2 linked regions of the Homo sapiens genome follow. The protein of the gene in region 1 interacts with the protein of each later gene in a biochemical or structural test. Each region holds a gene or a part of one and is shown on either strand. Other genes may lie near its edges. The genes, in order: CNST and GJC1.

Region 1 (7,993 bases):
ATGATGAGGATGTCCATCACAGTAGAACTTGTGAATAGCTTTTATAGAACCACTTAATATAGTACCGTCAACATTTTACATATTTTACATACAATTTGAATACAAATTCTTAAAATTTATAATAGAACATTAAAATAATCTTCTAATAAAATCAGCCTTAAGTATAAGGAATCTAAATTTCATTATCTTGTACATTTCTAAATAAATATCTTTGATCTATAACCCTTGAAAATATTACAGTTTATGGTGACATGATAGAGACAAGTCAAACAGTATTATAAGTGAAAATGAAACATCAATTTAAAATGAACAAGTGTAAAAACACGCGGAACTGAAATTATAGAAAATCAAAACACTAAATACACAGTAATTAAATATCTAGCACTGGAATCACCAAATGCATGCGCAGTAACACACTTTCAACTGATATAAAAAGCCCTTTAAGATTCACATAATCTAAATAAATAAGCAGAAACACAAAGGGAGGTACTGTGCCAGCCAGTAACAACTAGAAAGTAAGTTCTCCCTTTTTCTTTCAAATGATCCTAACAGAAGACAGGAAATAAAGATCACTTGTTAAAAACTATAATTCATGTTTGGTTTTTCTTTGTTGTTTTTTTTTTAATGCTGCCCGATAAAGTCAAAGCAAGGCTTCCTAAATGTTAGACCACTACACCTCAGATAAGGAAAGGCCACCTAACGGACAGATTTAAACAAAAATCAGACATTTGTCTATGGAAGGTATGATTGAATTTTTGCGTAATGACCCCGCAATAGGATCTAAATCAAGCCCACAACAAGAATGCACATTCAAGCATCTGAATGCATGATCTGTTAATACTGAATTCTATATGGTGATTTCACTCAGCAAAGTACTGGTTTATTCTATATAAGACCAGGATTAAAACACCTACAGTGGGAACTGTATCTTACTTAAGTTTGCATTCTGGTTCTCAGAATCTCAGAACATAATAGGTGTAAGCGTTTGCCAAACTGAGTCCAGCATTCATGATTTCAGGAAGCTTTGCATCCGTGACAAAACTGTTGCCTGAGACTCAGGGGAGCTTTTTCTTTGGTCTCTAGGCCTGTGATTAATTTCTGGCTAATCAAGTTAATTGACACAGATCTGTCACAGTTTCTCATTGCAGGGTCAAGAGTTCTAGAATTCATCTATTCCACAGTTAAGCCTTCTCCAAAGATTTGTGCCTGCACATCATCATCAAGTTAAAAGAAGAAAGATCATCTTTGTGATGTTGGGTATTTGCTTATGTTAACTGCCGGAAGCACATGCGCACGCACACACACGCAAACACACAATCACTTCATAAGTGGAGAACAGAAGTGAAATAATACGCAAAGCCTAAATTACACAGCTCCCAAGTTAACTAAAGAATGACACTGAAACCATAAGGTAACTCCTTCTGATTACACACAAACTTATTGCGTGATGGCGGAAAGCAACTTCTATGACCCAACAAGTGTAAACCAAAAGTGTTCTTTAACCATTAGCTTGACAAGGTAGCTAAAAATAGTGTGGTTAAGACTACCCTGTTTAATTCTGCTCAGTGTACCTCATGACATTAGGAGGCAGTGAGGAGGAGATGGATATGCTCTCTCCAAAGACCATTCCTTCCATCCACAATGCTTAGATTGATATTTGCCTCACTGTGTGGATTATTCTAACAGAGTTCCTCCGGCTTGCCACTTAAAGTTGCTATTTCTGATGTCCTTGGTTCCTAACAGAGGGAAGGGGGAATGCTACAGAATTCCTGAAAGAAAAACTGTTTAGAAAGTCTCCCGCCTTTCACTCTCACTGCCAGCATGTCTGTGTCTGGAATGCTGCTAGGAGAGGTAGATCCAGTGCTTCAGTTCTGCCACTCCCTGAAGTAACTTAGTGTAATAGAAGTCCATGTTGTCTGCAAAGTCAGTACAAACAGGTGACTCCATGTCACCGAAAGTGCAGTATAATGCAGTTCCTCCAACACTGAGGAAAACCGTTGCTATGCACAGCAAGACCAGCAAAATACAGGAGCCACCTCCAACTTCATCTGCAAACATGAGAAAGAGTGAGGTTACATTGTCACCGAAATGGAAATCTTAGCATCTGCTGTCTTTTCACTAATTAAGATAACTACACATTTCTACTGTTGGTCCTCTACGGATAGGAAGTATTGACAGAAAACTCATGCTGCTAATGACTCTACAAAGACCTACCTATTAAATACCAAGAAGATTCAGACTTGTGGAGCTTGTACAAGCTAAAATTAAAACTAGCTCATTTATACAATGGACAGAATCACTCCATGAGAAGAAGAAAAACAGCTCACGTGCTCATAGCACGCATTAATGAATTCATTCATTTTTGTTTGTTTTTTAGAGACAGGGTCTCACTTTGTCACCCTGGCTGAAGTGCAGTGGCAAAATCTTGGCTCACTGCAGCCCTGACACCTGGGCTCAAGTAGTCCTCCTGCCTCAGCCTCCTGAGCAGCTAGGACTACAGGCCTGTGCCACCATGCCTGGCTATTTATTTTTTATTTTTTGGTAGAGATGGGGTCTCACTATGCTGCAGAGGGTGGTCTTGAACTCCTGGCCTCAAGTTATCTTCATGTCATGGCCTCTCAAAGTACTGGGATTACAGGTGTGAGCCAGCATGCCCACCCCGACAGCATTATTTGACAGTCTACAGTACAGCCTGGCTGTTCTAAGATCCTTGGGGTTCACATAATGGGACTACCTGAGAGCAAAGTCGACTTAATATTAAACAATAAAAATGCCTTTGGGTGGGATCTCTTTTGCATCTTTCTATATTGAAGAAAACAATCATTCTTTGGTTGAAAAATATCTTAATTATTCATAATTTAAAAAAAATTTTAATTTCAAAAAGACCAAAAAGTCTTCTGATCTGCAGCATGATTAAAGTGTAGGAATGCCTTTTTGGAAGGTAATTTGGCAGTATCTATTAAAATTTAAAATTAATTTATCCTACAGACTGGACAATTTTGAGAGTAAAAGACAGTGTTAAGGCTGGGTGTGGTGGCTCACGCCTGTAATCCCAGCACTTTGGGAGGCTGAGGCGGGCGGATCACGAGGTCAGGAGATCGAGACCATCCTGGCTGACACGGTGAAACCCCGTCTCTACTAAAAATATAAAAAATCAGCTGGGCGTGGTGGCAGGTGCCTATAGTCTCAGCTACTCAGGAGGCTGAGGCAGGAGAATGGCATGAACCTGGGAGGCGGAGGTTGCAGTGAGCTGAGATCACACCACTGCACTCCAGCCTGGGCCACAGGGCGAGACTCCTTCTCAAAAAAAAAAAAAGAAAAAAAGACAGTGTTAACTGAATGCAATTCCGGGACAACAGGTGTAAACCAGGACGGCCTCAGGCCACCTGGGACATATAGTTTCAACATATCCCAGCAAATCCACCTTTAAGAATTAGGCTACAGTTCTGCACAACAAATATCATATATACAAGCTTGTTCACTGCAGCAGGGTTTGTTATAACAAAAGGCTGGGAATAACTTAGTGGTTCTGGTTACAATGGAACAGTTAAACAATTATGGGACATTTATATAATGGAATATGATGTAAGTATTTAATAGAATGAAGTAAATTTAATATGTTCTTTCATTGAAGGATGTCTAAGACTCATGATTTAATTTTTACTTTATTAAACTGATTTTTTTCATAATTAGCATATATTTTTACAAGAAACAAATTTTACAAAACCTAATGGATACCAAATAGACTTTATTTAGAACATTGTGCAGTAATACATGAATATATTCTCCCTGTAAAAACGCAACCCCAAAAGCATCTTAGAGTCTAAGGGACTATCCGTTTTTCTCCCGCCCAATCATATTTCCTTCCCATCCCAGAGGTAAACACTGTTAAATTTGGTGTGTGTCATTTCAGATCAAACACGTATGATTTCAGGACTTACATCAAAATAGGATTAAAAAATTGTTTGCTCTGAAATTTACATTTTAAAATAGTTGTTTTTTTTTTTGAGACAGAGTCTTGTTCTTGTTGCCCAGGCTAGAGTGCAATGGTGTGATCTTGGCTCACTGCAACCTCTGCCTCCTGGGTTCAAGCAATTCTCCTGCCTCAGCCTCCTGGGTAGCTGAGATTACAGGCACCTGCCATCATGCCTGGCTACTTTTTGTATTGTTATAGAGATGGGGTTTCACCATATTGGCCAGGCTGGTCTCAAACTCCTGACCTCAGGTGATTTGCCCGCCTTGGCCTCCCAAAGTGCTGGGATTACAGGCATAAGCCACCACGCCCAGTCTAAAATAGTTTATACCTATGTATGAAAATATGTCTTTTATATAAATGAAGAAATAGGATCATATTAATCATGCTGTATTTTTTTGGACAGTTCGGTCTTGTCTTTCTTTTTTTTTTTTTTTTAGACATAGGGTTGTGCTCTGTCACCAGGCCACACTCACTGCAGCCTCAACCTCCTGGGCTCAAGCGATCCTCCCATCTCAGCCTCCCAAGTAGCTGGGACCAAAGGTGCACACACCACCATGCCCTGCTAATTTCTGTATTTTTTGTAGAGATGGGGTCTTGCCATGTTTGCCCAGGCTGGTCTCCAACTCCTGGCCTCGAGTGATCCAGGAGGAAGACTTGGGAGGAGGCTTCCCCAAGTGCTGGGATGACAGGTGTGAGCCACTGCACCATGCCTTACGTGCTTTTCTTAACATGATTCCTACCCCCACTTCATCTATGTTAACAACCTAAAGTATTTTTCTTCATTATCATATATTCAAATCCAAACATTTAAATATAGCTTAAATATGTAAAAGCATCTATGCTGTTTGTTTTATTTATATGTCCTAGACCTGTCTGAGCTGTACTGTCCGATGTGAGCCACAGGTGGCTGTTGGGCACTTGACATGTAGCTGGTCCAAACTGAGCGGCGATGAACACAGATTCTGAATACTTAGTGTGAAAAAAAGGATGTAAAATGTCTCACTAGTAATTTTTTCATATAGATCACATTTTGAAATAATTTTTATGTACTGGGTTAAATAAAATACATTCTTAAAATTCTGGCCAGGTGCGGTGGCTCACGCCTGTAATCCCAGCACTTTGGGAGGCCGAGGCAGGCAGATCACCTGAGGTCAGGAGTTCGAGACCAGCCTGGCCAACATGGTGAAACCCCCTGTCTCTACTAAAAGTACAAAAATTAGCCAGGCGTCGGGGAACATGCCTGTAATCCCAGCTACCTGGGAGGCTGAGGCAGAAGAATCGCTTGAACTCGGGAGGCGGAGGTTGCAGCGAGCCAAGATCGCACCACTGCACTCCAGCCGGGCGACAGAGTGAGATCCCGTCTCAAAAAAAATAAAATCAAATAAAAAATAAAATTCATCTCACCTGTTTCTTTTCACTTTAACATGGCTACTACAAAGCTGAAAATCATACATGTGCCTCACATTAATTTCCAGGGGATAGCATTGGCTTACAGAAGGAAGAACAGGCCCTTTTAGGAAGATTTTGGCAGAAGGTGAGGTTTATGAAAACACCGTGTAAGTCACAGAGCTTAGGAACAAACCAACACAATCAACATTTACATTTAGTTTTATAATTCTCAAAATGAATTTATACATATTATCTGACACGCTTTTCAATAGGGACAGAGAGGCAGATGTTATTCTCCTTATTTTAAAGATGATGGAACTCAGTCTCCTACAAGTAAGTGACTTAGTTTAAGATGAGGTGGCTACAAAGTGAAATGCAGACTGTGAGTTTCAAATCCGGGGTTCCTCCTATTAAGGAACGATTTGGTCAAATTAGTGCAAACAGAAGTGAGCACCTTATCTGGAGAAGACTGTGAGAGTTACAAGCAAGGTGCAGAAGTAAAATCAGGGGTTAGGACATTATTTCTAAGGCCCCCTAACCAGCTTTCTAATTGTAAAAATGCAGAAACCTCTACTGTTATCACTTATGTCACACCCAGAAAGCATACCTAAATATTTACACTGTTATTTTAACAATGCAGTTGTTTTATGAATATGAGAAGCCCACTGACAGGTTCTGGGTTACCTTTCCATTTACTCTTATTTACTTACACCTTAGATAAACATATTTGCAACCATAAAAGGCAGCATTGTTCACTACAAAACTCACCACCTCATGTTAGACCAAGTCAGGGCCTTAAGTTTGACAGGCCCAGGACGAAGAAGTCAAACAGCAGCAATGGTGTAAAACTGCTGCTCTCGAGAGACACTCTTTTCTATCAATGAAGAGGAAATCACTGAAGAGAATATTCATAAATATTTTCCACAATAAAGGAGGAGTATTAATTGTCCACTGAAAAGAAGACAAGCCGGGCATGGTGGCTCATGCCTGTAATCCCAGCACTTTGGGAGGCCGAGGTGGGTGGATCACTTGAAGCCAGGAGTTCGAGACTAGCCTGGCCAACATGGCAAAACCTCATCTCTACTAAAAATACAGAAAACTAGCCAGGGCCTGGTGCGGTGGCTCACACCTGTAATCCTAGCACTTTGGGAGGCCAAGGCAGGCAGATCCTAACCTCATGAGGTTAGGAGTTTGAGACCAGCCTGACCAACATGGTGAAACCCCGTCTCCACTAAAAATACAAAAATTAGCCGGGCGTGGTGGCATGTGCCTGTAAGCCCAGCTACTCAGGAGGCTGAGGCAGGAGAATTGCTTGAACCTGGGAGGTGGAGGTTGAGGTTGCAGTGATTTGCGCCACTGCAATCCAGCCTGGGTGACAGAGCAAGACCGTCTTAAAAAAAAAACAAAAAAACAACAAAAGACAAAAATAGCAGACTCACACAAAAAGTACTAAAGAGGGAAACTGAACTAAGCTCTCAACATTAACTGTCTATGGAACAGGGAGGCCACAAGTTGAATTTTGCAGCTTGCTCACTTATTTAAGCAAGTAAAGATTTAGAAATGATTTAAGATGATAGTTGGATTTTATATGTTTCTCCCTTAGAAGATAAAGCAACTAAACTGACATATTCTTTTATTTACTTATTTATATTTATTTTTTGAGATGGAGCCTCGCTCTGCCACCTAGGCTGAAGTGCAGTGGCACGCTCTTGGCTCACTGTAACCTGTCTCCCGGGTTCAAGCGATTCTCCTGCTTCAGTCTCCTGAGTAGCTGGGATTACAGGCGCGTACCCCCACACTCGCTAATTTTTCTAATTTTAGTGGACACAGGGTTTTGTCATGTTGGTCAGGCTTGTCTCGAACTCCTGATTTCAAGTGATCTGCCCGCCTGAGCCTCCTAAAGTGCTGGGATTACAGGTGTGAGCCACCGTGCCTGGCGGACATAGTCTTTTACAAATCCTGTTAGTAAACGTCACATCATTCACAAACTCATCCTTTCAGCAAACACTGAGCATCTATCCTGCTAGCCACAGTGCCAAGCGGTTTACCTTGATCCAAGCTATCGTCTATTTCTTGGAATCTCACTCTTCGCTTAGATGGTTTGTGTTGCATTTGGGCAGGATGATCTCCTACAGTATCATTCCTCTTCTTTAATATGGAGACCAATCCTTCAGTAGGAACAACCTGTCAGAAATTATAAGAACCTATAATTCTTTTATTAAGGCGGGACATCTCTACATGTAGCTATAAAAAGGCTCATTCAACAGATATTTGAATTTTTATTACAGGGGTATCCAATTCCTATAGAAAAAAATAACATCAAAATCTAACAGAATAAAACTTTCACTTCTCTGCAGATGACTGAGAAACACAAAAGTCCAAAACCCTGGTTTCCTTTTTTAACCCCTGAACTCACTCCGGGGACAGGCAGCATGACGTGTTCAGTCGACTGGAAATCAGAACACCTTGCTTTGTAGCTTAACTTCCCTGTTATCGGTAAAATGATCACTCACAGTCCCCTCTTTGCTTCGTCATTAGCACTGGGTTTTGCTTTATAATAAATGCTTATAATCCTCCACTGCTTTTTTCATTCATCAGCAATTTTAAACAAATGAACATATGAAGCTT
Region 2 (8,051 bases), on another chromosome or scaffold:
TTTTTTTTTTGAGTTTTGCTCTTGTTGCCCCAAGCTGCAGTGCAATGGCATGATCTCAGCTCACTGCAACCTCTGCCTCCCAGGTTCAAGCAATTCTCCTGCCTCAGCCTCCTGAGTAGCTGGGATTACAGGCATGCGCCACCACACCCATCTAATTTTTTGTATTTTTAGTAGAAATGGGTTTTCACCATGTTAGCCAGGCTGGTCTTGAACTCCTGACCTTAGGTGATCTGCTCCCCTCGGCCTCCCAGAGTGCTGGGATTACAGGCGTGAGCCACCGCGCCTGGCCAACTGTCCCTACTTCTAACGGCATGGATTAGTTTTGCTTGTTTTTTTTTTTTGTTGTTGTTGTTTTGTTTTTTTTTAAACGCGGTCTTGCTCTGTAACCCAGGCTGGAGTGCAGTGGTGCAGTGGTTCAGTGGCACAATCACAGCTCACTGCAGCCTCAACTTCCCCAGCTCAAGTGATCTTCCCACCTCACCACCTCAGCCTCTGGAGTAGCTGAGACTCCAGGCACATGCAACCATGCCTGGCTAATTTTTGTATTTTTTGTAGAGGTAAGGTTTTGCCATGTTGCTAAGGCTGGTCTTGAACTACTGAGCTCAAGTGATCCGCCCACCTTGGCCTCCCTAAGCGCTGGGATAACAGGCATGAGCCACAGCACCTGGCCAGTTTTGTCTGTTTTTGAAGTTTTTGTAAATGAAAACTTTTGTGAGATCCATCTTATGTGTAAATGTAGATTGTTCATTTTCATTGCAGCATAATGTACGTAACACAATTTAGCCATTCTACGGTTGACAGGCATTTTGGGTAGTTTCTAGTTTTTTGACTTATTATAAATAGTGCTGCTATGAATACTCTAGTACAAGTATTTTGGTGAACATTTGTACACATTTTCGTGGAATTGCCATGGAATTCCAAAGGCATAGTGTATTCATAGGTTCAGCTTTAGTAGTGTAGTGGCGGAAAGGTGTGACACCTTTCCTCATCCATCATAAGGATCACAGCTGACACTCCTATAACAAAACCCAGATTAACAAGAGAAGGGCATAACCAAGTTATTTAACCAAAGTTTTATGTAACACAAGAGACTTCGGAAATTAAGACCTCAAAGGGCCGAGTGCGGTGGCTCACACCTGTAATCCCAGCACTTTGGGAGGCCTAGGCGGGTGGATCACGAGGTCAGGAGTTCAAGACCAGCCTCACCAACATAGTGAAAACCAGTCTCTACTAAAAATACAAAAAAAATTAGCCGGGCGTGGTGGTGTGCGCCTGTAGTCCCAGCTGCTTGGGAGGCTGAGGCATGAGAATCAGTTGAACCTGGGAGGCGGAGGTTGCAGTGAGCCGAGATCATGCCACTGCACTCCAGCCTGGGTGATGGAGAGAGACCCGGTCTCTCTCTCTCTCTCTCTCACACACACACACACACACACACACACACACCCTCAATACCCTAGAACAATTGTTTTTATGCTTAGGTTCAATGCAGAATGGACAAGCAGAATGTGATCAGACAAAAGGGGTATGATCTAATTTAACAGACTGAGCGGGGAACCCAACAAGGCTTGTCGGTTCAAATTCTTCTTGGCTTCCCAGTGTAACATTCCTTCCTCCAGGGTATTCCTTCCTGGTTCCTCTGGAATGAGGGTCTTCAAGGGGGAGGAGAGAAGGGGGAGAGTGACCTTTCTGGTTTTATGGCTTGCTTTGGGGGAGAGGGGTTCTAGTTTCTATGACCCGCCTTGGGGAAGAGGAATTTTTATTTCTATGACTCGCTTCAGGGGAGAAAGGGGCGGGAGACAGGAGGGCAGGAGAAGGTCAGAGAGAGACTTTGCTTCTGAGGCCTTCCAATCTCCTTTAGTTCAAAGCACTCAGCACGCCAAAGCTCCATACTTTGGGATATTGTTTTCTTTCTTTCTTTTTTAAAGAGATGGGGTCTCGCTCTGTCTTCCAGGCTGGAGTGTAGTGGCATAATCATAGCCCACTGCAGTTTCCTGAGTAGCTGGGACTACAGCCACCACGCCCTGGGAAATCATTTTCTGAGCCTCAACAGTAGATATTGCCAGTTTTGCAAAGTCCGCTGGGCACGGTGGCTCATGTCTGTAATCCCAGCTCTTTGGGAGGCCAAGGCGGGCAGATCACTTGAGGTCAGGATTTGAGACCAGCCTGGCCAACATGGTGAAACCCCCTTTCTACTAAAAATACAAAAATTAGCCAGGCATGATGGCGGGCACCTGTATTCCCAGCTACTCCGGAGGCTGAGGTAGTAGAATCTTTTGAACCTGGGAGGCGGACATCGCAGTGAGCCGAGATCACCCCACTGCACTCCAGCGTGGGCGACAGAGTGAGACTCTGTTGCAAAAACAACAACAAAGTGATTTAGGCCAGGCACGGTGGCTCATGCCTGTAATCCCAGCACTTTGGGAGGCCGAGGCAGGCGGATCACAAGGTCAGGAGATCGAGACCATCCTGGCCAACATGGTGAAACCCTGTCTCTACTAAAAATACAAAAATTAGTTGGGCGTGGTTGCGTGCGCCTGTAGTCCCAGCTACTCGGGAGGCTGAGGCAGGAGAATTGCTTGAACCGGGGAGGTGGAGCTTGCAGTGAGCCTAGATGGCGCCCACTGCACTCCAGCCTGGCGACAGAGTGAGACTCTCCCTCAAAACAAAACAAAACAAAAAAGTTATTTGTACTAGTTTACAGTTGCAGGCTGTGAGAATTTTAATATTTTATTCAACAGGTACAATGATGTTGTTTCCTGTGTTATTTTAGTTACATGCTATTTATTATTTCCAGGTATTTTCAGAGTTTTCACCCTGGTCATTTTATTTTTTTCACTTATTTTTTTGAGACAGGGTCTCACTCTGTCGCTCAGGCTGGAGTGCAGTGGCGCTATCTCAGCTTACTGCAGCCTTGACCTCCCGGGCTCAAGCGATCCTCCCACCTCATGCTTGGAGTAGCTAGGATCACAGGTGCGCGTCACCACACCCGGCTAATTTTTGTATTTTTTGTAGAGATGGGGGTTTTGCCATATTGTCCAGGCTGGTCTGGAACCCCAGGGCTCAAGCAATCCGCCTGCCTAGGCCTCCCAAAGTGCTGGAATTACAGGCGTGAGCCACCGCGCCCATCCCACACTTGTCATTTTAAATACATCTGTAGAGAGGCAATGTGATAAGGCGTGGGGACAGACTACAGCAATCACAGGGAGAAGTACTTAAATGCTCCGAGGCCAAGCAGGTCATGAAATGATTTAAGCAGCTGAGTGGGGACATTGCCTACCCGGACAAGGTGACTCAAGAGGAGCTGCCATGTGAAAAGAGAAGCTCAAAGTAAGCAGCTTTTGACTTTTTAGGGAGGCCAGAAATCTGGATTTTAATATTTTGGTAACTAATTCATATTTTTGGAAAACATACTGGCCACACAAAACTGGTCAGTGCATTAGATGCCTAGCCTTCAAGATTTCCACTCTGGGGCTACCCCTTAGGGCTTGGCTTTGGGTGGGGGAGTTTGACTTGCAGCAAGTAACCTCACTTGTTAGCGCTTAATTTCCCCTCTGGTCAAAAGGGCAAAATAATAAAAGCCTGTCCATCGGCATTCTGATGCTCAGATGAGATCATTCCAGAGGTCGCCCATCTCTTTACTGAGCCTTCCTTTATTACCCAAAGTCTTACTCTACTTAAAGCATTTGGAGAATTTTCGGTTTCCTACTGGGCATTTTAAAACTGGGGATTCCTATGCATGAAAATTTTTCCCAAGTCCTCTGAATGGGATCCTGCTGGGATGCAAAGAGTTAAGAGGAAATAGCCTATTAGGGTCTTGCTAATCCGAGAAGTTCAGGACCTGAAAAGTATCTAGAGCACTGCTAAGAGCCCCGACTCTAGCTAGATCCACGCAGGGCCCGCCAGATCCTCGAGGAATTGTAGAGCAGAACCTGGGAGGAGACATTAGCATCCCGTGCTACAATGGACCAAGGCCTCGGCGGAGCGCGCAGAAGACAACTCTGGGCCCGCTAAACCAACCCAGGATACCCAGGTAAGGCGAGAACCCACGGCGCCGTTAGCGGCCCGCTCAAACTGAGGCGCGGCTGGCGGGGGACTCTCGCCCGAAAATCAGCTTGGAAGAATGAACTGTCCGGAGCGAAGTCTGCGCCCACCCGGGGTCCAGACTCCACGCGGGTGACTCCCACGCGCGCCGCGCCTCCGCCGCGTCCCGGACTATCCGAGAGAGCGGCGAGGACTCGACCGCGGAAAGTTGGCGCTCGCGTCGCTTCCCGCGCGTTCTGGGGCGCCCCCCTCCCACTCGAGCGCCACGTGCCGCGCGCCCCCCGCTCCCGGGCCGCGGCGGGACGCCCCCGCCCCCACCGCAGCGCGCAGTGCGCAGGCGCCTTCCCGCGGGTCGCGGCGGCGGGAGCGGGAGGCGGCGGCGGCGGCGGCAGCGGCGGGAGCGGCTTCTGCCTCGGCTGGAGACTGAGGCGAAGGCGGCAGCGGCGGAGGAGGTGGAGGAGAGGCGAGGGTGAAGGCGATGGCGACGCGGGGCACATGAGGCCGCGACCGGCGGGACGGGCCGAGGCCCGGCGGAGGAGGCGGCTCCGGGGGAACCCGCCGCCGGGTGAGGGGCGGCCGCAGGGCCGGCTGAGGAGAAGCGGGCCAGGGGCGGGGTCCCAGGGGGAGGCGGGAGAACTCTTGGGGAGCCCGGGGAGGGGCCGAGGAGAACCTCCGGAGGTCCGGGGAGGAGCGCGGCCAGAGCGGGAGAAGGAGGGGGGCGCCGCCGAGGGGTTCCCGCCGAGTCCGGAGGGGCGTCGCCGGCCCGCGTCCTGCCACTGTCCCCGGCGCACCCTCCCTCTTTGTCCCCAGGCGCGCGGCTCCCAAATCGGGAGGGAAACGGCTCGGGGGTGTCCTGGGCCGCGGAGGTGTCGGGCGACGGTCGGGGAGCCCGGACAGAAGCGGCGCGCACTCGGCGGCGCCCCGGCGGTGCCGACAACTACCCGGGCGGTTAGGGGCGCAGGGCGGAGCCGGGCCGCCCCTCGCCGCCCGGGCTCTTCGCGGGCTGCTCTTTGTCTCCCCGACCTCGATCCCTGCGTCTCCGGCGGCGTGCGGGCTCGTCTGAGGCTTCCCGCATCTCCCCGCTGGAACTCCTGCCTCCCGGGGGTTAGAGGAGGGTTCGTTCGAGGGCTGGAAGCGGGAAAGCGGGGCGGAAGGACTGGGCTCATCGCCTCCTGATTAACTCGTTGTCTTTACTTAAAATGACTTTTCCCCCACTTTGTCAAACTTGAGAACTGTTTTGTGTGTGTGTGTGTTTCCTTAAGTCTCTAGCTTCAAAATTAAGAGTAGGCGCTACCGCTGTGATTGTGGGCAGTTGTGTGGTTGGCGGCTGCGTTTGGAGCTCTGAGTTGAAAAGATGTACGTGAATGTATGGTTTAGATTTTGTTCTTTTTTTTGCGATTGTCTGATTGGGAGTACTTTTCCTTTGCGAAATGGGCGAATTTGGTTTTCTTTTTGTTCATTGAGAACTGGCAGTGATACCGATTTCATTATGCTCATGCTTAATTTTGTTAGCATCAAGACGATGTGAAATCGAGTAAGTTAAGTTTGAATAAGTTCAGGCTGAGGGTCATCTTGTATGCCTGATAAGTCTAAATTTGTTATATGTTTGTGTCGTGTATACGTTCAAGTGAATATATGTGAAAGCGCTATAAAAAATCAAACTACATAAATGAAAGGGATTTTAATTTCCTGATAAGCAGGAAACAGCATATCTCCAGTACTTTAATATCTGTAGAAAAATGCGTTAATAATGTCATTTAGGAATAAAATATTTCTCTCCCTAGAGAGGGTTTAGGTATTATTCAGAGTAAAAGAGCAAAAAAATTTCAACCTCAGAGGGTATGGAAAAAAACAGAAAAATACCCTTACTTCCAGAGCTCCTGATTAAAATATTGTGAGTTGTGGGTTAAGTTTACTGATTTAAAAAAAACTTAGCATAGAGTTGTATCACTGCAGTTGCTTTGAATGTCTTAAGTACTGTGTAATGTCAGAATTAAACACGAACTAACTTTTCTGGGTAGAAGGTAAAAAGCTCCAATAAACAGATCTTAGTTTTCCCCAGATTTTTGTGCCCAGAGTGCTGTAGGCAAAGGGCATATTGAAGAGATACATAGAAGTTGTATGGAAGGTCTGTTAATATTTGTCCTGATTTGTAATGGCTTAATATTATTTACTACTTAAACTGTTGTGCATTTTTCCAAAGCATTTCAAACAACCTCTTCAAAAGCCAGCACTTTTAACTTTTGAGGTTGTGTGACTTAAGAATTGTTTTCTACCAGAAACAGTTCTCTTAAAAAGTTCTACCACAGTTCTCTTAAAAAGGAGCAAAGGACCTGGTAATTTTCTCTGTAATCAATTCATGCAGGTAAAATTGAGTTTTAGCCTTTAATCCAGAGGACTTAATTAACATATCTCCAGCATAACAATCTTACTTATAAATGCTGTTATCCTTTGTCAATTAAATTTTATTCTTATATTTGTATAAGTCAGCCAAAGGGAAGGAATGCAGGGTTGTGTTTCTGATTAGTCCACTTCCCCCCAGGTCCAGGCTTGCCTATCAATTGAGTAATGAGGATCTTAGAATACAGGATATATAATTTAAATCCAGAGCATCGTTCTCTTAACAAATGCTTAGTGTTTGTTCCATGCCTAATTCAATGCAAAGTGATGAGTTCCAAAAAATATTGCTTTATTTGTTGTATGTTCACATTTCAAAATTGGTGAGGTGTGTTCTTTTTTCTTTTTCCTTTTCCTTTTTTTTTTGAGATGGAGTCTTGCTCTGTCGCCCAGGCTAGAGTGCAGTGGCTGGGACTACAGGTACCCGCCACCACGCCTGGCTAATTTTTTTTTGTAGTTTTAGCAGAGATGGGGTTTCACCATGTTAGCCATGATGGTCCCGATCTCCTGACCTTGTGATCCTCCCGCCTCGGCCTCCCAGAGTGCTGGGATTACAGGCGTGAGCCACCGTGCCCGGCCATCCTTTTTTTTTTCAAAGACATTGCTATGATGCCCAGGCTGTCATAGTACACTGCAGCCTCAAATTCCTGGGCTCAAGCCATCCTCCTGCCTCAGCCTCCTGAGTATACCCAGCTAATTTCTTTTTTCTCCTCCTTTCCTGTCCTGTCCTGTCCTTCCTTCCTATAGTTAAGTTTGACTAGGGGGTATGATTACTTATTTCTGAACTTATGCTTTTCTTGTAGTGTAGAAATACATGTGGCTTCTGTTCAAAATATTTGATAAAAATTTAGGCAAAGAAAAAGCAGGAATTTTTTTTTTTTGTTTGTTTGTTTTTGAGACGGAGTTTAGCTCTTATTGCCCAGGCTGGAGTGCAATGGTGCTATCTTGTCTCACTGCAACGGTGCTATCTTGTCTCACTGCAACCTCCGCCTCCCGAGTTCAAGTGATTCTCATGCCTCAGCCTCCCAAGTAGCTGGGATTACAGGAATGCCCCACCATGCCCAGCTAATTTTGTATTTTTTAGTAGAGACGGGGTTTCACCATGTTGGTCAGGCTGGTCTCCAACTCTTGACATTAGGTGATCCGCCTGCCTCTGCCTTCCAGAGTGCTGGGATTACAGGTGTGAGCCACCGCACTCGACCAGATTATTAGTTTTGTAAGACCGTTCCTTTGAGAATAGGTATGAGAAGATAGATTTTGGCTGATATCGTTAACCTGAAATTTAGACATAGAAAACAGTTCTGAGCTGTTAATATCAGCTGAATGGCAACAGTTGTTTTTCAACATACTGCTACAGCTGATGAGTTCAGTTTGTGTTGAAATAAGAACCTAGTAAAATGTATTTTTAAAAATATTTTTTAAGATTTAAATACAAATAATTTTAAATACAAAAAACTAGCTGGGCGTTTGAGCATTGCTATTTACTGCAACTCTAAAGAGTGAATGACCTGTTAGTCAGTACTGGCTGGCATACAGTTATACATTCTTGAATTTTACAAGTACTGTAGTTGGCTGAGAGCAGTCCTTGGCAATAAAGGTTTATCTTTCAGACC

The links.
Region 2: the proteins of CNST (region 1) and GJC1 form a complex in vitro, tested with the Homo sapiens proteins (one study listed by BioGRID).

What each region holds. Positions count from the first base shown.
Region 1 is NC_000001.11:246,659,755-246,667,747, reverse strand, and holds part of CNST (consortin), read right to left. Parts: intron 7,550-7,993; coding exon 7,414-7,549; intron 2,049-7,413; coding exon 1,843-2,048; 3' UTR 1-1,842. UniProt on the Homo sapiens protein: Required for targeting of connexins to the plasma membrane.
Region 2 is NC_000017.11:44,826,617-44,834,667, reverse strand, and holds the start of GJC1 (gap junction gamma-1 protein), read left to right. Parts: upstream 1-4,380; 5' UTR 4,381-4,606; intron 4,607-4,843; exon of another isoform or gene 4,844-5,156; intron 5,157-8,051. UniProt on the Homo sapiens protein: One gap junction consists of a cluster of closely packed pairs of transmembrane channels, the connexons, through which materials of low MW diffuse from one cell to a neighboring cell.